Linked DNA regions of Homo sapiens: region 1 is linked to region 2. A link means that fine-mapping ties the variant in region 2 to the expression of a gene that starts in the linked region. Tissue or cell type: whole blood. Region 2 holds a variant in brackets; the other region holds the start of a gene. All regions are shown on one strand. Distances are between the middles of the regions.

What was found. PIP is the estimated chance that this variant, and not a neighbour inherited with it, causes the effect.
Region 1: PARP14 starts here. The variant in region 2 is fine-mapped to the expression of PARP14 in whole blood (INTERVAL, PIP 0.97).

What each region holds. Positions count from the first base shown.
Region 1 is chr3:122,675,222-122,686,107 of GRCh38, forward strand. It overlaps PARP14 (poly(ADP-ribose) polymerase family member 14), which reads left to right and starts at 5,618. Exons shown (of 17, transcript NM_017554.3): 1 at 5,618-5,849; 2 at 9,964-10,097. The coding sequence starts at 5,663. RefSeq lists enhancers at 4,606-4,725, 5,129-5,901, 5,326-5,725, 6,267-6,356, 7,742-7,821 and 1 more and a silencer at 5,966-6,015.
Region 2 is chr3:122,653,350-122,664,235 of GRCh38, forward strand. It overlaps the pseudogene EIF4BP8. Among named protein-coding and RNA genes, the nearest start is that of PARP14, 22 kb to the right of the region's middle. The variant GA/G (reference allele first, on the strand shown) is at 6,244.

The sequences.
Region 1 (10,886 bases), 22 kb after region 2:
TACTCTTTAACCTGTCATTCCCACATCTAGGGATTTACATTGAAAATATACTCCCAACAAAACAAACAAATAACCAAACAAACATGTGCAAGGTTACTCAATGTGACATTATTTGTAATTGCAAAATATTAGAGATGCCCTAAATGCCATGCCTAGGAGATGAGTTAAATAAACTCTATATATCTATACTTCAGTGAACTGGGCAGCTGTAAAAAGTAATGAGGAAGATCTCTGTGATCTGATATGGAATAACTTACAGCATATATTAAATGTAAAATTCAAAGTATAACTGTGTGTATAGATACAGATATAAATTACTTATTTATAGCATGTTACCTATTGCATGAAAAGAAGAAAAGGTCATACACAAAACACATATTTTTGCAAAAAGAAAACGGTGGAAGAATATTCCAGAAACTGATGATATGCTTACCTGGTTACTTACAGAGATAGTGGAGATGGAGTGAGAGGATTAGGGGACTTCTCTGAATATATATCTTTATATGGTTTTGATTTTTGAGTGTTAAAATTTTATCATTTCCAAAAAGAAAGTCAACAAGGATGAGGAAAAGCCCTAAAATTGAATCCAAACAGAAATGATGACCCTGATTATGTGTCTTATAACAAAACCATACTCAGGAAAAAAGTATTCCAAGTAACTTTTGAGCCTAGTACTCTTACTATACACCCTCAATAGTTTCTATTCAGTGGATAAAAAGAACTACAAGGAAATCTTTATTTAGTAGATTTGTTGTTGATAATGGTATTGGGTATTGGTGTTTGTCTTAGTCTATTCAGTTTTGCTATAACAAAGTACCATAGACTGGCTAGCTAATAAACAATAGAGATGTATTTCTCACAGTTCTGGAGTCTGGGAAGTCTAAGATCAAGGTGCCAGCAGATTTCATGTCTACAGAGGGCCCAAACTGCTGATTCACAGATGGCCATATTCTTGCCATGTCTTCCTATGGCAGAAGGCAGAGAGGAGCCCTCTGGGTTCTCTTTTATAAGGGCACTAATCTGACTTATGAGGGCACCACCCTTATGACCTAATCACTTCCCAAAGGCCTCAATTCCTAATGCCCATCACATTAGGAGTTAGGATTTAACATATGAATTTGGGGGGATACAAGCATTCAGCTTATAACAGAGTTCCAATTCCAAACTATGTTGTGTGTAATGAAGGATTGAGAAAATAAGTAAATATATTAATGTTCTTGGGAAACAAAGTTCATACTTTGAGATAAGGTTCATACAAGAGAATCATATGAGAAGAAGATCATAAGAATTATACAAATATGAAATAGTAGGAGAGAAAGAACCTGTGGTGACTGATTGAAATTAGAGCTATTTCCTAACTCTGTCCACAAGGCTGAATAGAAGAATTAGGCTTATACTATTTATTTCTCCACAGTCTTCATTATATATTTTTCCTTTGCTATATATTTTTTTAGGCTTCCCTTGCTATATATTTTTTTAGGCTTCAAAGGAAATACTTTTGTCTTCTAGTATAATAGTAACATAAACAAAGTATTCCTTGAGTTTCATGATCTGAGGTCAGTGTAGCAACCAAGAAGAAAGGTGAGATTAGATGTCTGAGTAAAACTTCTGGAAATATCTTTCTGTCTTTATTATTCAAGAATTTAATGGAGATGTGTGTGGGTGACACAGACAGTTCTGGAAGTGAGCCCAGAACTCAATGAGTTCTTTCAATTTTCAAGTTGGATTCTGACAGTTTTTGTTGTTTTTCTTTAAATTTGATTACCACATTGACTCTGTAGCTACATTTCCAGGCAGTCCATAATCCAATAAAAACGTCCTGCCTCAGGCTTTGATGGATCTAGGACTTGGAGCTTTTAGATAATAAATATCTGTGATATTTGTAATGGTGTGCCACTGTTCATCTCTTTCCAACTCGGCATTCACTGAAATCACACTGGGAACTTCATCAGCTGTTGTGAGAATATTTACATCATGGAATTGAAAAACACTACACATCAGGGCCTGAGTCGTTGCTTTGTTGGTTATCTTGACTTAAAGTGATGGAGAATTTGCTAACAGGGCAGATTATTTAAAAGTGGGTCACATCTATAGCCATTACATTGTAAAAAGCACAAAAAATTGAGGAAATATTCTTCCAGTATTTGAAAATTATTATCCAATTTAGTAAAGAAGGAATTATGTCATTGACAAATAAGGGTTCTGACATGTCTGCATTGCTTCACTTTCATTTTACTTGTTAATGTAAACAAAAGTGTCAACTTACATTTATGTCAAAACTACACTCATTCCTCAATGGCAACCATAGTTTGCCTATGGCTTTAAAAAAAAAAAAAAAAAAAAAATATATATATATATATATATATATCCAACACAAACTTTATTGTTAAATGAGTTATGTTTGTCTTGCACTAATAAACTTTTATTTCACCCAAATTAGAGCAATAATCTTCCATACTTAAGTATCTTCCCTGCCCAATAATTCAAAGAAACAAAATCCAGAATGATTAGTATAGATATAATTGTGGCAAAAATCTTTGAAACATTCTTTGAGAATCAATCAGCTATTTAGAAACTACAATAGAGTATTATATATTTTGTTATTATTTGTAAATTATGTGTTATCCAACCATTATATCAGTAAAATTTATAATAAACATAACACACATGGAAACTTTGTTTCAAAAATCTGGTTGCTCAATATTTAACAGCCATTACTGGTAGGTGTCATGCATGATATAGTGTGGTAGTAAAATATTGTGTGTTTCTATTTAAAAAAATATGATCTAGATTATACTGAAAATGAATGCTTGTCTTGAGACATACACATGTGTGTTCAATTCAATGGTTACCTAATTGCATGATGAGGAAAGGTCTTTACACAAACACGGAAAGATCAAGTCTACTCTGGACTCTTCTGGAGAAGCCACCTCCACCTCCCACTCAACCATAGTATTGGTGAAACGAAATTACTTCTATTTGGGAAAATGCATCAGTAGTAATTACTGTCCTGGCCAGTTGAGGGGTATGGAGACTGTCCCTATGGAGGTTTGAAGATAAAAGCTCTTGAAAGGTACCTGAGCATAGGGAGTAAGGCCAAAGACTGTGATGTGTCCATCAGGGGGCTCCCTCTGAGGGTAGAACTTCTTGGAGTACTTTTCCCTTGATGTATGGCCATGTCTTATTTTGGGGTGACTAGGTCAGGAGTTTCAGAAGCAAAATGAGGTGGAGTGGTGGGCATGAGGTACCTACAACTCACTGATTCAGGACAGAAGGGAAAGCAGCCCTTTCCCTCCTTTATACCTCAATGGTAGAAATGAGGAGGCTGATGCTAGTTGGTAGAGAAGTTCAAAAGAGCACGATGCTAGGCTACGGCAGTTTGTAGAGAAACCAAAAGGGGGAATTTAGATGAAGTAGGGAAAGGGAAGTTCAGCCCAAAAATGCAGACATGGGCTGTTACATTAAGATGAGCTGTAGCTGTGAAGTAGAAGGAGAATCAAGGAACACGGCCACTTCTACAGCAGGCCACCCCCACCCCAGGCCCTGAGAAGACACGTGCTTCCCAGGAAGAAAGGATCAGAAGGCAGATACCCACAGGAAACAGAGAATTGTGAGAGGATACGCATTCTTCAAGTGAACAAGGCAAAAATAACTTGCAGAAAACAAAGTACTGCAGGAGCTAATGCCGTTCAACAATTTGCCCCTTCTAGAACTTTCTTTCCTTGGCTTTCAAGACCTGCCATCCTGATCCTCTGATAGCTCCTTCCCAGTCCACCCAGGCATGATAAGCAGACCTCGGTGGTAAGACACATTGTCGATAATTAAATAAATCCTCGAAAGTAATCCAGAAATGCCTCTGACTTTATTTCTTATACAATAATTATGTGAGGAAAAAGGGAAACTTTTTGCTGAGTTCTGGAACCCCAAACTCAGGGGAGAGTGGGAGAGGAGGAGTGCTGATTTTAGTTGTGGTTTGGGATGAGATGTAAAGGCCCTGGGGAGAAACAGTCACCAAGTCTGGCTGAGGGCGCTTGTCCTCCCGTCTTCCGCATGCGGGGGTCCAGAGCAGTTTTGGATCAGATGATGAGCGCCATCTGCAGGTAGCAAGCTGGAGGCAGGAGAAAATATCTGTGTACTGTTTAGGATTATTACAGAGCCGAAATAAAAGCCAGGTAAACCATTTGGCCCATCTCTGGTTCTCTTCATTCTGAAATTCAGCCCGATCCTGTAACCCCACAACCTACTGCCTGGCTCCTTCTTCCCCTTCACGGTCACATTTCTGCAAAGAGCGTGTTACGCTCTCTGCTTCCACTTCCTTCCCTCCCTTTCAGTCTTCAGTAGCTGCCATCTCCCTCTCCTCCCTCCTCACCAGGAGACTATGCTTGCCGCTCCTCAGCAGTCCAGCAGACACTTCTCTGACCTGAGGTATCGGTAGCACTGGAATGATAATCCCCCCGCCCCCCTCGACTTGCAACACTGCTTTATTTGGGGTCAAGGAAACACACAGCCCCAGCTTCTCTCCCATCACTCGGCCTCCCCTCTTGCAGATGCCACTATTATCCAGCCACTTGCACGGGCCATCCATGGCTGACCATGGAGTCATCCTTGAGCTTCTCCTTCTCTCAAGGCTCACATTCTTCAGCAAGTCCTGCTTTCACTATTAATTGAGAATCCTCGTTTTCTCAGTTCTTCTCTGCCAGCACCCCAGTCTCAGCCACCCTTGTCTCTCACTTAGGACACTATGGTAGCCACTTGGCTGATCTCTCTGCCTCCACTCTAGCCACCACGCAGCAGCCGGAGTGATCCTGTACATGTGAATCACACCGTGGAACCCCACTTCCTAACCCTCCAAGGCTATCCCCTGATATCCTGGGGTTATCAGGTTACATGTCACCGCCCTATAAACCCTCCCTGAGCCGCCACAGCTGGACTAGGAGCCACTCCTCATCTGTTCCAGGAACACAAGTATATTCTTTCCCAGAGCACCTATTGCCCACTGTGTTCACCATAGCTCCGTGAGCTCAGCGAGGGTTCAGTGAGTGAGTGCATGGCGCCTAGTAAATATTCCACAAAAAAAACTGTGAGTGTAATTGTTTCCCCCACATTTCTAGACATGTAGTATTAACAGATCAAGGAACAGAAAGCAAAACAGGGAAAGCAACGTAAAATTCTGATAATCACAATGATTGCTGAAAAAGTCCCCAAATAGGCAGCAAACATTCTAAAGGGGCCACAGTTTGTGAGTCATTTTATTCTTTTGTAAAGGGTCGGCTTGCGGCAAAAATTAAATGATCTTTGCGTTTGGGCAAGGTCTGGTGCCCCAAAGCTGCCGACTTGATCTGCGGTTGGGGCGAGCGGCAGGTAGGGGGCCCGGAGTTAGGAGGGGGTGTGGGAGCCCGTGGAGCACAGGTGAACTGAGGCCGCCTTCCCGGGGCGCCGCTGGCCAGCCCCAAAGGGTTACTTTGGCCTTGGCTGTGGGCCGAATGCGAAGGTGGGGAGGTGGGCGGGGGATGACTCTGCCATTCCTGGGTCCGCTGTGTTAGGCTGAAGGCAAAAGGAAACCAAGGCCTGGGAGTTTTCCAGGAAACGAAAGCGAAAGAGTCAAAGTTAGCGGCCCGGAGTTGGCGCGGCCCCTGCAGTCCGGCGGAGAGCGGAGCTGAGGATGGCTGTGCCCGGCTCCTTCCCGCTGCTGGTCGAGGGCTCCTGGGGCCCCGACCCCCCGAAGAACTTGAACACCAAGTTGCAGATGTACTTCCAGAGCCCGAAGAGGTCGGGAGGCGGCGAGTGTGAGGTCCGCCAGGATCCCAGGAGCCCATCCCGCTTCCTGGTGTTCTTCTACCCGGAGGACGGTGAGGGGCGCGAGGGGTGGGGTGAGGAGGGGGCACCTCTGCCCTCCCTCCAGGGAAATGGCGGCAGGGCACGCACGGGAGGGTGACCCGCCCGACTTCGGCGGCTGCTGTAGCGGAGGTGGCCGGGGCGGGGGCGGGGGCGGGGGCGGCAGAATGGATTCCGAGCGCACCCGGGGCGCTGCGGTTCCCCGGCGCCCTGCGCTTCCAGGCGCTTAATGGCGCGGCCCGGAGGTGGCGGCGGAACCGCGCAAGTAACTCTTTATCCCTCGATCGTTTTCTGTCTTTCCCTGTTGTGGTGGTGTTATTGTTTGTTGTTGTTGTTGTGGAAGTGAGTCTATCCTCTTATCATCCTTTTCTGTCTTTTCCTGTTGTTATTATTCTTGTGTGGGGAAGGAAACTGATTAAGAAACGTGGCAAGTCACAGAGATTCCTTGTGGTTCTTGGAGATTCCCAGGGGTCCCGGGGTCACTTGGGAGAGGGGCAGAGGCGCTACCTAAAATCACACTGCCTGAATGTCAACGTAGAGCCGTCACAGCGGCCACATTGGAGGGGCTGTCGATCGACCACAGGTGCCCATTGTCGAGGGCCTGCCGGGGCCTCTTCTCCGAGTCTCTAGTGGCCCTCAGATTGGGAGCAAGGATGATATTCTGAAGTGATTGTGGGTTGGGAGATTTGAGCTTTGGAGGGAAAGTCGGCAAAGTTCCCTCCTTACAGACCCACCACTACTTGGTGGGCCAAGAGCCCAGAGGTGATCTGCTGGCTCAAGGGCCTCCCTGGTCTGCAATGGGAAGCCAGTGACCTGCAGCTCCCAGAATGGGCACCTTTTCCACTGGCATCTTATGGATGATGACCTATCGGGATCTAGTCAACCCCTAATTCCGCTTTCATGTCGCTAGATTTGGAGAAGCATTCGGGCCAGAGGAGAGGCAAGGAGGCTGAGGCTGAGGCCATGCAATTAGAGTGCCCAAGCAGGGATCCAAAAAGGAAAAATGAAACAGAAAAAGAATGGCGCACAGAAGGAAGGAAGGAGGGGGACAGGAGATATGCTTGGCTCATGGCCCTTATGAAAACAAAATACCATGTTTTCCTAGGATTAATTTTACCAAGGAGTGCTCAGAAGGGCAACTGTGTGATATTAGTCATTTCTCTTTTGGGTGTCACTTTTCCTTGAGGGTTTTCCCCACTTTGACTTCAGAGGTCAGCATCACCATCGATCTGGCCCTTAAGGATGCTTCTTTCTCCTTTAGATTCCATTATCCTTAGAAGTAGGTCTGACCTGCATCTGAATCACCTGGAGAGCAGGTTAACCAGGCACCTTCCCAGCTCTGTTTTAGAGATTCAGGTTCAGTGAATGTGGGGTGGGTGGGAAGCGTGTATTTAACCGGCAGCCCAGGTGACCCTAATGTGTTCAAGTTTCAGAATTTCCGTAGTTAATGTTAACCCCAAATGAACAAAAAGAAATAATTATACAAATTTAAACAGCATGAAAATACAAATAGCACAAAGTATAATTTTGTGATGATAAAATAACTCAATTCTAGCCCTCCAAGCAGAAAAGATTTCAGTCTTCCTGCTGGGCTTCCATCCTTGACCGGCCCCAGCCCACTACTCCTCTTCCTCCACCCCCAGGCTGCTCCAGTGGCCCCTCTTGTCTTACCCCCCAGCACAGATGACCCAAAACTTATTAAAACTCAAAACCGGCCGGGCGTGGTGGCTCACGCCTGTTAATCCCAGCACTTTGGGAGGCTGAGGCAGGTGGATGACGAGTTGAGGAGATCGAGACCATCCTTGAGCAACATGGTGAAACCCTGTCTCTACTAAAACACACAAAAAAATTAGCCGAGCGTGGTGGTGTGCGCCTATAGTCCCAGCTACTCAGGAGGCTGAGGCAGGGGAATTGCTTGAACCAGGGAGGCAGAGGTTGCAGTGAGGTGAGATCGCACCACTGCACTCCAGCCTGGCAACAGAGCAAGACTCCATCTAAAACAAAACAAAAACAAACAAACAAAAAGAAACAAACAAACAAAAACAAACTCGAAACCTAGTATGGTCTAAGTTCTTGGGGGTGGAAAATCCCTAGTCAGTTTCAGTTTCCTACTTGAGGAACCACTTTCTCAGTAACAAGGGTCAGGAATTTGCTAACAATGAATGACCTACGCTTGAAGTCCCAGAAGTGCATTCTTCTTCTGCAGAGGACACTCTCCACCCTCCATGCCAGGAAGTGGCCTCAACAGGTGCGGGCCCATAGCATAACCTGATTTGATTCATATAAACTGTAATAGGCAGATAACAAGAATGAGCCCACCAGCACTTCTCCGTATTTATTCATGTATAGCAAATAGAAACAAATGGGAAGCTGTATCTCACTTTTATATAGTTCACTGGATTTCTGAAAAGTTGGTGTAAATTGACATAACATTTTAAGCCCTGTTTCAGATGTGTCTATTTTATCATACTTTACCAACATAGTTTGGTTCCTGGTTGTTGTCGGGTTCCTTGTGGTAAGAACCCATCTTCTCCTTAAATAAAATTAAATGTTGATGATCTAAAGTTGGTGCAGGTGGAAGACTGTCCACTTGGGTAAGGGAGGTTGGACATCAGAGTTTCAGCTTTTTCCTCCCAGATTGACTTTCTCCTTTTTGGAGATCATATACCCATATTATTACCAACTGTTCTCCTGAAATACTTGTGCCCATAAATATTGCCCACAATCTGAGAACAGACTGGCACATTTAGATGCCTAGACAGGACTTTATCAAAGTCTAGGGAATAAGAAAAGGACTGTAACACAGAGGTCCATGACTCTAAATAACTTGACTTACAAAATTTAGCTTGTTGTCAGGCTGCAGGGGTCCTATCCAGTCCTCAATCCCCACCTTGGTTTAGTAAAGCCCTTCAGGAGTTTGTGTGGAAACATCTGCCCTCCTCATAAAGAGTGAGATTAGAAGCTGGCGTTCCTTCTCAGGTTGTTTCTGAGGCCTATTTCTGAGTTGGCATCCAATTAAGACCCCACTTCCTCCACCCTCTTCACAGAGGGTTGAGGTGGGAAAGCTATCATGCTCCTATTCATGAAAGATTCTGATCTATATCCTTGGCCTCATCAGGCCAGCCATATCAGAACACAGCATAGTGACCCAACATTCATGCTAGAGCTACACCTGTGACCTGTAGGGCACTCTCAAAAACTCCTTTTTTCCCTGACCTCTTTGTACTATCTGACTATGTTGATCATGCCTCCTCCTTGAAACTCACTTCTTCCCGTTCTTCATGGACTGAGATATGCTGATTTTCTTCATATCTCTCTGGCTGCTCCTTTTTATAATCGTAACTCACATCTGCGTAGTTCTTGAGGATGTTACAGTGTGCATTCATGGACACCACTTTAAGTGAGGAAACTGAGAGTTGAGAGAAGTTAAGGTATTCACTCAGCTATTTGTGGTAGAGTTGGAATTCAAATCCAGATCTTTGGACTCTATGTCCACTGTTCAGTTGTTTCACTACAGCCAAGCTGCCTGATATGCTAATCTATTAATTTGTTCATTTTTTTTTTTGCAAAAATCTCCCCCTTCTTTTATACTCCTTTTACTATCAGATGTGAGACCTGTTTCTAACTAGGCTCCTGCTTACAGCCACCTAGCCACCTTCCTAAAACGTGACTTTCATCATGGCATGTCCCAGTACCCAATCTTCACTGGCTCCCATTGAAGGATGCTTTAATTTAATTCACTTCAATATAGAATAAATATTGCTACCTTTTGAGTACCTCCTGAGTGTCAGGTCCTGTACCAAGTTCTTTATAATGTTTCTTCAATTTAATACACGTGGCACTCATACAAAACAGTCTCCATTAACCTTACAAATAGACAAGAAAACTGAGGCCTTATAAGTATGGCTTATTAGGGAACATGCTCAATATTAAAAAGTCAGTTTAAGGAAGAAATTCAAATCCATGTTTGCTTGCTAAACTTTTCCTCTTTTACTTCACATATAGCCTCTCTTGAGAAACCGACCAAGCCATTGATTGATGGTAATGCAGCCCACGGAAATCATAGAATAATTTTGTAAATAAAGATTGCTTGTCATTTGTCTTTTTTCCCCCCTTTGGACATTTCAGTTCGGCAGAAGGTTCTGGAGAGAAAAAATCATGAGTTGGTATGGCAAGGAAAAGGAACATTCAAGTTAACTGTCCAGTTACCTGCAACCCCAGATGAAATCGATCATGTCTTTGAAGAGGAACTTCTAACAAAAGCAAGTAAACTTTAGGCATGAATAAAAGGGATTTAGGTCTCCCAAGGTGTGTGAGATGGGAATCACCATGAAGAAAATATAGTGGAAAGAAAAGCATGAAGCAAACTGCAGCGAGAAAAGCAGATTACAAATGTAGGGGGAGTGAGGGCAGTGGTAGGGTAGGGTAGTATGGGATAAAGTAGGAGGGGGTACTTTTTTTTTTTTTTTTTGAGACGGAGTCTCGCTCTGTCAACCAGGCTGGAGTACAGTGGTATAATCTTGGCTCACTGCAACCTCTGCCTCCTGGGTTCAAGTGATTCTTCTGCCTTAGCCTCCTGAGTAGCTGTGACTACAGGCATATGCCACTATGCCCAGATAATTTTTATATTTTTAGTAGAGACGGGGTTTCACCATATTGGCCAGGCTGGTATCAAACTCCTGACCTCATGATCGGCCCACCTAGGCCTCCCAAAGTGCTGGGATTACAGTCATGAGCCACCGCACCCTGCTGGGGGTACTTTTTATGTGATTTTAGACACATTTGGAAAAGCCAAGATTTGGGGATTATAATAATGGTGGTTTTGGATGTAAAATTTGGGGTCTGTGTCTCCAGAGTTCTTTATAACCTGTAACCTGTTATATTTGTTTTATTTTCTATGTCATTTTGAGGAGACAGCAATCCATACTACCTGTATTAAGTATTACCCCAATTGTAAAATGGAATAGTAACATTAATGATCCAACAACAGATTGCAGGATTATTGTGAGGGTTGAACAAGATGATCTGTATAAAGCACATGACACAGTTCT
Region 2 (10,886 bases):
AAAAGGAAAAAAAGGCAGGGGTTGCAATCCTAGTTTTTGAGAAAGCGGACTTTAAACCAACAAAGATCAAAAGAGACAAAGAAGGCCATTACACAATGGTAAAGGGATCAATTCAACAAGAAGAGCTAACTATCCTAAATATATATGAACCCAATACAGGAGCACCCAGATTCATAAAGCAAGTCCTTGGAGACCTACAAAGAGACTTAAGATTTCCACACAATAATAATGGGAGAATTTAACACCTCACTGTCAATATTAGACAGATCAACGAGACAGAAGGTTAGCAAGGATATCCAGGATTTGAACTCAGCTCTGCACCAAGGAGACCTAACAGACATCTACAGAACTCTCCATCCCAAATCAACAGAATATACATTCTTCTCAGCACCACATCACACTTACTCCAAAATTGACCACATAATTGGAAGTAAAGCACTCCTCAGCAAATGTAAAATAATAGAAATCACAGGCCAGGCGCGGTGGCTCACGCCTGTAATCCCAGCACTTTGGGAGGCCGAGGCAGGTGGATCACGAGGTCAGGAGATTGAGACCACTCTGGCTAACACAGTGAAACCCCGTCTCTAGTAAAAATACAAAAAATTAGCCGGGCGTGGTGGCAGGTGCCTGTAGTCCCAGCTACTCGGGAGGCTGAGGCAGGAGAATGGTGTGAACCCAGGAGGTGGATCTTGCAGTGAGCTGAGATCTCGCCACTGCACTCCAGCCTGGGTGACAGAGCGAGACTCCACCTCAAAAAAAAAAAGAAAAAGAAAAAATAAAAATAAATCACAACAAGCTGTCTCTCAGACCACAGTGCAATCAAATTAGAAGAATCAAGAAACTCACTCAAAACCACACAACTACATGGAAACTGAACAATCTGCTCCTGAGTGACTACTGGGTAAATAACGAAATAAAGGCAGAAATAAAGATGTTCTTTGAAACCAATGAGAACAAACACACAACGTACCAGAATCTCTGGGACACATTTAAAGCATGTGTAGAGGGAAATTTATAGCACTAAATGCCCACAAGAGAAAGCAGGAAAGATCTAAAATTGACACCCTAACATCACAATTAAAAGAACTAGAGAAGCAAGAGCAAACAAATTCAAAAGCTAGCAGATGGCAAGAAATAGCTAAGATCAGAGCAGAACTGAAAGAGATAGAGAGACAAAAAAACCTTCAAAAAAATCAATGAATCCAGGAGCTGGTTTTTTGAAATGATCAACAAAGTTGATAGACCACTAGCAAGACTAATAAAGAAGAAAAGAGAGAAGAATCAAATAGACACCAAAAAAAATGATAAAGGGGATTATCACCACTGATCCCACAGAAATACAAACTACCATCAGAGAATATTATAAACACCTCTACACAGGCCGGGCGTGGTGGCTCACGCCTGTAATCCCAGCACTTTGGGAGGCTGAGGTAGGTGGATCACGAGGTCAGGAGATTGAGACCATCCTGGTTAACACAGTGAAACCCCATCTCTATTAAAAATACAAAAAAATTAGCTGGGGCATGGTGGCATGCCCCTGTAGTCCCAGCTACTCGGGAGGCTGAGGCAGGAGAATCGCTTGAACCTGGGAGGTGGAGGTTGCAGTCAGCCAAGATCGTGCCGCTGCACTCCAGCCTGCGAGACACAGAGAGACTGTGTCTCAAAAACAAACAAACAAACAAACAAACAAAACACCTCTACACAAATAAACTAGAAAATCTAGAAGAAATGGATAAATTCCTGGACACATACACCCTCCCAAGACTAAACCAGGAAGAAGTTGAATCTCTGAATAGACCAGTAACAGGCTCTGGAATTAAGACAATAATTAATAGCCTACCAATCAAAAAAAGTCCAGGACCAGATGGATTCACAGCCGAATTCTACCAGAGGTACAAAGAGGAGCTGGTACCATTTCTTCTGAAACTATTCCCATCAATAGAAAAAGAGGGAATCCTCCCTAATTCATTTTATGAGGCCAGCATCATCCTGATACCAAAGCCTGGCAGAGACACAACAAAAAAAGAGAATTTTAGGCCAATATCCATGATGAACATCTATGCGGAAATCCGCAATAAAATACTGGCAAACTGAATCCAGCAGCACATCAAAAACTTATCCACCATGATAAAGTTGGCTTCATCCCTGGGATTTGAAGCTGGTTCAACATACACAAATCAATAAACATGATCCATCACATAAACAGAACCAATGACAAAACCACATGATAATCTCAATAGATGCAGAAAAGGCCTTTGACAAAATTCAACAGCCCTTCATGCTAAAACCTCTCAATAAACTAGGTATTGATGGAACGTATCTCAAAATAATAAGAGCTATTTATGACAAAGCCACAGCCAATATCATACTGAATGGGCAAAAACTGGAAGCATTCCCTTTGAAAACCGGCACAAGACAAGGATGCCCTCTCTCACCACTCCTATTCAACATAGTGTTGGAAGTTCTGGCCAGGGCAATCAGGCAAGATAAAGAAATAAAGGGTATTCAGTTAGGAAAAGAGGAAGTCAAATTGTCCCTGTTTGCAGATGACATGATTGTATATTTAGAAAACCCCACTGTCTCAGCCCAAAATCTCCTTAAGCTGATAAGCAACTTCAGCAAAGTCTCAGGATACAAAATCAATGTGCAAAAATCACAAGCATTCCTATACACCAATAACAGACAAACAAAGAGCCAAATCATGAGTGAACTCCCATTCACAATTGCTACAAAGAGAATAAAATACCTTGGAATCCAACTTACAAGGAATGTAAAGGACCTCTTCAAGGAGAACTACAAACAACTGCTCAATGAAATAAAAGAGGACACATACAAATGGACGAATATTCCATGCTCATGGATAGGAAGAATCAATATCGTAATTTATAGATTCAATGCCATCCCCATTAAGCTACCAATGACTTTCCTCACAGAATTGGAAAAAACTACTTTAAAGTTCATATGGACCCAAAAAAAAGCCTGCATTGCCAAGACAATCCTAAGCAAAAAGAACAAAGCTGGAGGCATCACACTACCTGACTTCAAACTATACAAGTCTACAGTAACCAAAACAGCATGGTACTGGTACCGAAACAGAGATATAGACAGATGGAACAGAACAGAGGCCTCAGAAATAACACCACACGTCTACAACCATCTGATCTTTGACAAACCTGACAAAAACAAGAAATGGAGAAAGGATTCCCTGTATAATAAATGGTGCTGGGAAAACTGGCTAGCCATATGCAGAAAGATGAAACTGCATCCCTTCCTTACACCTTATACAAAAATTAATTCAAAATTGTTTAAAGACTTAAATGTTAGACCTAAAATCATAAAAACCCTAGAAGAAAACCTAGGCAATACCATTCAGGACATAGGCATGGGCAAGGACTTCATGACTAAAACACCAAAAGCAATGGCAACAAAAGCCAAAATAGATAAATGGTATCTAATTAAATGAAAGGGCTTCTGCACAGCAAAAGAAACTACCATCAGAGTGAATAGGCAACCTACAGAATGGGAAAAAATTTTTGCAATCTACCTATCTGACAAAGGGCTAATATCCAGAATCTACAAAGAACTCAAACAAATTTACAAGAAAAAAACAACCCCATCAAAAAGTGGGCAAAGGATATGAACAGACACTTCTCAAAAGAAGACATTAATGCAGCCAACAGACAAATGAAAAAATGCTCATCATCACTGGTCATCAGAGAAATCCAAATCAAAACCACAATGAGATACCATCTCACACCAGTTAGAATGGCGATCATTAAGAAGGCAGTAAACAACAGATGCTGGAGAGGATGTGGAGAAATAGGAACGCTTTTACACTGTTGGTGGGAGTGTAAACTAATTCAACCATTGTGGAAGACAGTGTGGTGATTCCTCAAGGGTCTAGAACTAGAAATACCATTTGACCCAGCGATCCCATTACTGGGTATATACCCAAAGGATTGTAAATCATGCACACGTATGTTTATTGTGGCACTATTCACAATAGCAAAGACTTGGAACCAACCCAAATGTCCATCAATGATAGACTGGATTAAGAAAATGTGGCACATATACACCATGGAGTACTATGCAGCCATAAAAAAGGATGAGTTCATGTCCTTGGCAGGGATGTGGATGAAGCTGGAAACCATCATTCTGAGCAAACTATCACAAGGACAGAAAATCAAGCACCGCATGTTCTCACTCATAGGTGGGAATTGAACAATGAGAACACTTGGACACAGGGTGGGGAACATCACACACCGGGGCCTGTCAGGTGGTGGGAGGCTGGGGGAGAGATAGCATTAGGAGAAATACCTAATGTAAATGAGGAATTGATGGGTTCAGCAAACCAACATGGTACGTGTATACCTATGTATCAAACCTGCACACTGTGCCCATGTACCCTAGAACTTAAAGTATAATAAAAAATAAAAACAAAACAAAAAAAAAACCTTTAACTTGGCCTGATACTAAATAATTGTATTGGTCAGGGTTCTCTAGAGAAACAGAACCAACAGGGCGTGTTGAGATTATATAAATAAATTACAGGCTGGGCATAGTGGTTCACACCTGTAATCCCAGCATTTTGGGAGGAGTGGGCAGGTAGATCACTTGAGCCCAGGAGTTTGAGACCAGCCTGGGCAACATGGCAGAACACTGTCTCTACAAAAAATACAAAAATTACCTGAGCGTGGTGGTGCATGCCTGCAGTCCCAGCTACTTAGGAGGCTGAGGTGGGAGGATTGCTTGAGCTCAGGAGGTTGAGCAAGGCTGCAGTGAGCCGTGATTGCACCACTCTACTCCAGCCTGGGCAACAGAGTGAGACACCGTCTCTAAAAATAAATAAATAAATTACAGTTCGCAGTGGCTTATGCCTGTAATCCCAGCACTTTGGGAGGCAAGGCGGGTGGATCACTTGAGGTCAGGAATTCGAGACCAGCCTGGTCAACATGGTGAAACCCCATCTCTATGAAAAATACAAAAAATTCCCGGGCGTAATGGTGTCTGTAATCTCAGCTACTCAGGAGGCTGAGGGAGGAGAATCGCTTGAACCTGGGAGGCGGAGGTTGCAATGAGCCAAGATCACACCATTGCACTCCAGCCTGGGTGACAGAACAAGACTCTGTCTCAAATAAAATAAAATAAAATAAAATAAAACAAAATAAAATAAATAAAATAAAATAAAATAAAATAATTAAAAAATAAATTACAGAATTAATTAAAATTGCAATAAATATTTAAAAAGAGGTAGAGAGTGATATAAAATGTACTGCTTAACTGAGTCTGAGAAGTCAGGATAGGCTTTTCTGAGGAATATGTCAAACAGAAATAAGATTTTTTGGTTTTAAAATATAAGAAGGTAGAAGAAAAATGTTTAAGGTGAAATAAACCTATGTTTCCAAGTGGGATGAATTAGCTAGTGACAGAATGTGTTCTCACCTAAAATAAGCAGAAAATTAGAACAAAATAGAGGAGGCATCTATTTTAAGGCAGAAAAGGGCTTCTGAGTTAGCAATAACTGAAGGAGCCAAAACTCCAGAGAGGGAGAATCACAGCTAGGGAGAGCTGAGTTCTGCAGCCACTGTGCCTAGGGGTCATCTGCTGATTCTGTGCTTGGGGAGGAGACTGATAACCCCAGGCCTTGCACCCAAGGAAGGCCACTGCTGGGAGGCAGAGGCCAGGAGGGATATGGGAGGAGATTTGGAAGGTCTCCAGAGAACATCTGTTAAATTACAGGGGTGCATGAGGCTGGAGTCTAAAAAGAGAAGCAGAAAACTTCTGAAGCAGAACAGAGCCTTCGGCAGTCTTGTAAAGACAAAGATTAGAATTCTTGGCCCACCAGGTGGAAGAGCATGGAGAATACACTAGGATTTCTGCTGAAAATCCTGAAGAAGCAGGAGTAAAATCAATGCAGGCTGAGCCTTACGAAGGACACAACTCAGCCTCAACTCACCACAGTGCATAGAGGATTCAGGGTTAGATTTAATTAATTCTAAATTAGAATTAGATACAAGTCACCAATTAGAAGCAAGATGCTTTATAAAATTAATATAATTTTTATTGTATGTGGAGAAAATAAATGAGCAAGTACATCAAAGAGCATTTCAGATTCAAAAAGAGTGATGAGAAGAATTTGTCCTAGCAGACATTTAATGTACTGGTAACAAATTTGAAACACTTGGTGTACAGGAATATCAATAATGAGAATATTTAAAAGACCCACACTTTGCACTACACTCT[GA/G]AAAAAAAAATCCAGGTAGATTGGGAGTTAAATACATTTAAAAAAACAAATACACATATGTAAAAGACTAGCACTAGGGGAAATCACTTTTTGACTGTCGATGGAATATAAATGAAAAAAAGACGGACAGGTTCATGACTTAGATAGCTTTATCTTTGGTGGAATGAATACCAATAAAGCTGAAATTTAAAAATTCAGAAGACTGGAGAAAAAGTTTGCAAATGAAGACAAAGTTCAATAACTAAAAAGTATAAAGAGTGCATATAAATAGGTAAAATTACCAACTATTAAACAAATGATTAAAAAACAGTTCATACAACAAGAAACACTGTCAGTAAATCATAATTTTAAAACTATTCAGTCAACCTTGTTGGTAAAATAACTGCAAATTAAACCTACGGTGAAGTTTCATTTTGTGCCTTAAAAAAATTTAGAAAAACTTTTAAAAAGTTGTAAAAGCCAAAGCCTGCAAGGCTTCGGGAAGCAGATATGCTCATGCATTAATGAAAGCAGCGTAAACTGATTCAGTCTTCCTGAAGGGCAAAATGGTACTTTATTGAAAGAATCATAAATATGCCTAACCCCTGACCAAGTAATAGAATTTATCCTGAGGAAATGATGTTTAATAAAAAGTGTATGTATATATAATGTTTATTTTATGATGGCAAACATTGGAATAAAGCTAAGAGCCCAACAATACAGATATACAGAAAGAAGCTAACTATGGCATATCAAAATGATATACTCTAGTGATATACTAAAAATGATGAATATGAAGGTGCTATAGGAAATAGAAAATATTTGGATAAATCATGTTACATAAAAGGAAGAATACCAAATTGAACATACACACCCATTATGACTATAACAGAACCATGAATATACATAAGCAAAGTGAGAAAAGGACACACCTAGGAAATGTTTCTAGCTGGGTTAAGATCAACAGACTTGCAGTGAATTATTCTGTCAAGTTGTTAAGACATTAGATTTCCCTTTGCGTTCTCTTTCCCTCTCCCAACATGGCTGCCTCAGCGAAAAAGAAGAATAAGAAGGGGAAGACTATCTCCCTAACAGACTTTCTGGCTGAGGATGGCGGACTGGTGGAGGAAGTAGCTATGTATCCAAACCAGTCAGCTGGGTTGATGAAACGGATGACCTGAAGGAGATGTTTCAGCTTGGCACAGTAACGATGACGATGTGTATAGGGCGCCCCCAGTTGACCGTTCCATCCTTCCCACTGCTCCACGGGCTGCTAGGGAACCCATTATCGACCGGAGCGGTCTTCCCAAATCGCCACCCTACACTGCTTTTCTAGGGAACCTACCCTATGACGTGACAGAAGAGTCAATTAAGGAATTATTTAGAGGATTAAATATCAGTGCAGTGTGTTTACCACGTGAACCCAGCAATCCAGAGAGGTTGAAAGGTTTTGGTTATGCTGAATTTGACGACCTGGATTCCCTGTTCAGTGCCCTGAGTCTCAATAAAGAATCTCTAGGTAACAGGAGAATTCGAGTGGACGTTGCTGACCGAGCACAGGATAAAGACAGGGACGATCGTTCTTTTGGCCATGAGAGAAATCGGGATTTTGACAAAACAAATACAGACTGGAGGGCTCGTCCTGTCACAGACAGCTTGGATGACTACTCGCCTAGAAGAGGTGATGATTGCTTTGGAGACAAGTATCAAGATCGTTATGATTCAGACCGGTATCGCGGTGGGTATCGGGAGGGGTATCAGGATGGCCCACGCTGGGATATGGATCGATATGGCGGCCAGGATTGCTATGATGACCCAGGCAGCAGACACTATGATAGAGGCTATGATTCCCAGATAGGCAATGGCAGAAGAGCATTTGGTAGTGGGTACCGCAGGGATAATGACTACAGAGGAGGCAGGGACCGCTCTGAAGACCGATACAACAGACGGGATGATCGGTCGTGGAGCTCCAGAGATGATTACACTTGGGATGATTATAGGTGTGATGATAGAGGTCCCCGCAAAGACCCAAACTGAATCTAAAGCTTTGGAGTACTCCCAAGGAAGATGATTCCTCTGCTAGTACCTCCCAGTCCAGTCGAGCTGCTTCTATCTTTGGAGGGGCAAAGCCGGTTGACACAGCTGGTAGAGAAAGAGAAGTAGAAGAAATGCTACAGAACAAGAGAAGTTGCAGCGTCAGCTGGATGAGCCATAACTAGAACGACGGCCTCGGGAGAGACACCCAAGCTGGCAAAGTGAAGAAACTCAAGAATGGAACGGTCGCGGACAGGAAGTGAGTCATCGCAGACTGAGACCTCCGCCATACCCAGCAGAAATGCACGAAGGAGAGAGAGTGAGAAGTCTCTAGAAAATGAAACACTCAATAAGGAGGAAGATTGTCACTCTCCAACTTCTAAACGTCTCAAACCTGATCCTACCAGACCCAAAGGTAATGCCAGCCCCTCCACCAAAGGAGAATGCTTCGGTGAAGTGAAGTTCTAACGCTCCTGCTCCATCTCAGAGCTCAGACACAGAGCAGCAATCCCCTACAAGTGGTGGGGGAAAAGTAGCTCCAGCTCGATCATCTGAGGAAGGACCAGCAAAGAAAGATGAAAATAAAGTGGATGGGATGAAAGTCCCAAAAGGTCAAACTGGGAACTCTAGCTGTGGTCCAGGAGATGGAGGGAACAAAGACCACTGAAAGGAGTCAGATAGGAAAGATGGCAAAAAGGATCAAGACTCCAGATCTGCACCTGAGCCAAAGAAACCTGAGGAAAATCCAGCTTCCAAGTTCAGTTCTGCAAGCAAGTATGCTGCTGTCTCCGTTTCTGGTGAAGATGAAAACAAGGGAGAAGATTATGCCGAGTGGACCTAGACATCCTGTGCTTTCTCCTAGTTTCTCTCCACCCTGGAACGTTCGAGAGCAAATCAAACTTCTATCCAGACAAGACAAAATAAAACTCACCATCTCCTGGAGACTTTTCTTACCTTTCTTTTTTTTTTTTTTAAGTGAAATTCTTTTGCATGCTGCTGCAGCCTTTAGAGTATTGAAGTAACTGGAGAATCGCCAATATAGCCAGAGAGAAAGAGACTACAGCTTTTTAGTGGAAAAGTTGTGGTGCGTTTTGTCACCATGCAGTTGCCAGAGTGATTAATACCTAGGAGCCTCCATTTAGTGGAAATGGTAATGACAGTGAGATAAGGTCTGGAATCTGGTTGGACAGTAGGGGAAGGAAGTATAAGGAAAAGTGTGAGATTTCTACTTTTTATTTTTTACCCTATTGTGGCATATATGAATTCTCAAACATCTAAATAAATTTTTCACTCTTGGAAAGGTAGATTTAGCCTCAAGTTGTTTTAGTCTTCAGGAGGCTCCCAGCCCCTCCTGTTATTTAATTCTGAGTTTTAGGGGCCAGCCTAGAGGGAATTCTTTCATTCTTTTTTTTTTTTTTTTTTACCCTCCAAGGGGGTAGTTCGGGGTGAGTCTATAGGCCATAAAGAATAGGACTGCATTGGACCAAGATAAATGGGAAAATTGTGGTTTGAAAAGAAGCTTTTGGGAGGTAATGAGTCATTTTGTATCAGGTAATAGGGGAAAATTGTGCGACCTCCAGCAAACACAAGAATGGTTATTTCCCGGAGCCAGAAGCACTTGGGGGTCATGATAATTCCCAATGTTTGTGTGTCCTGGTTTTACCCTTTTTAAACACTGTCCTTTTTGAAAGTTCGAATATATCCACATTCTGTTGAAACCTTGAAACTTTAAAAATTTAGACTCTTGTCGTCATCTTAAGCTCTTCATGCTACTCTTAACCTCCCAAAAAGCAGTCTCTAAGTCACATAGATGATCTCTTGGGCATTTTCTCTCAGCCATGGAGAGGAGTGAAAGGCAGAATCGCTGCTTTTCTCAAGCAAATCGGTTTCTTGATGTCTTTTGGTTCTCACTCGTTGCCTACTCCTAATGGTTTGACCCCTTTTATAGATCAGGGTGCTCTAGGGTAATGGATGGTCTTGGGTGGTGAATAAAGGTGGATAAATAGGGACAGGGACAGTTAAATTGGGAGCCTTTCTCACAACCTCGATGGTTTTTTCCCCCCAAGTTTCCTTCTCCACTGAAATGACACACCAATGGTTGTTGGATTTATGAGGTGGCCAGACCAATGGGTTGTTTTTTCTTTTTCTTTTCTTTTTTTTAAGTCTCCCTTGAGAGAATAAATGGTAATGGAGAGAACTATTTAACAAGGTCCTGGTTTCTCTTGCAACACAGTAGCTAAACTTGCCTGCTTTTATGTGCATTTTTGTAGGGATCAGCTTGGTAGACAGTATTAGCAGAGAAATGACACCTTGATCTTGGTTTGCAAGCACTTCTCCTGTCAGTCCTAGATTAGGCCCTGCTCAGCCATGCAGGGGTGTTGGTTTATGCGTGCTGCAGCAGTGGGCATAATGAATATAATTTGCCCAGTGAACAAAAGTGTGTACCAAATGAATTTAAATAATTAGGGTGGACTGGCTAGTAGCTAAGAAGTAGGCTTTTAAAGAGAGATTGAAAGCTTTTTTTTAAGAAAAAAAAAACATTGATTGTAGATAATGAGAAGCTAGGGTTTGCCCTCTTCATGTCTACTCTCCCTCCAAATAGATACCAAACTGTTTTTCCCTCTCCCCT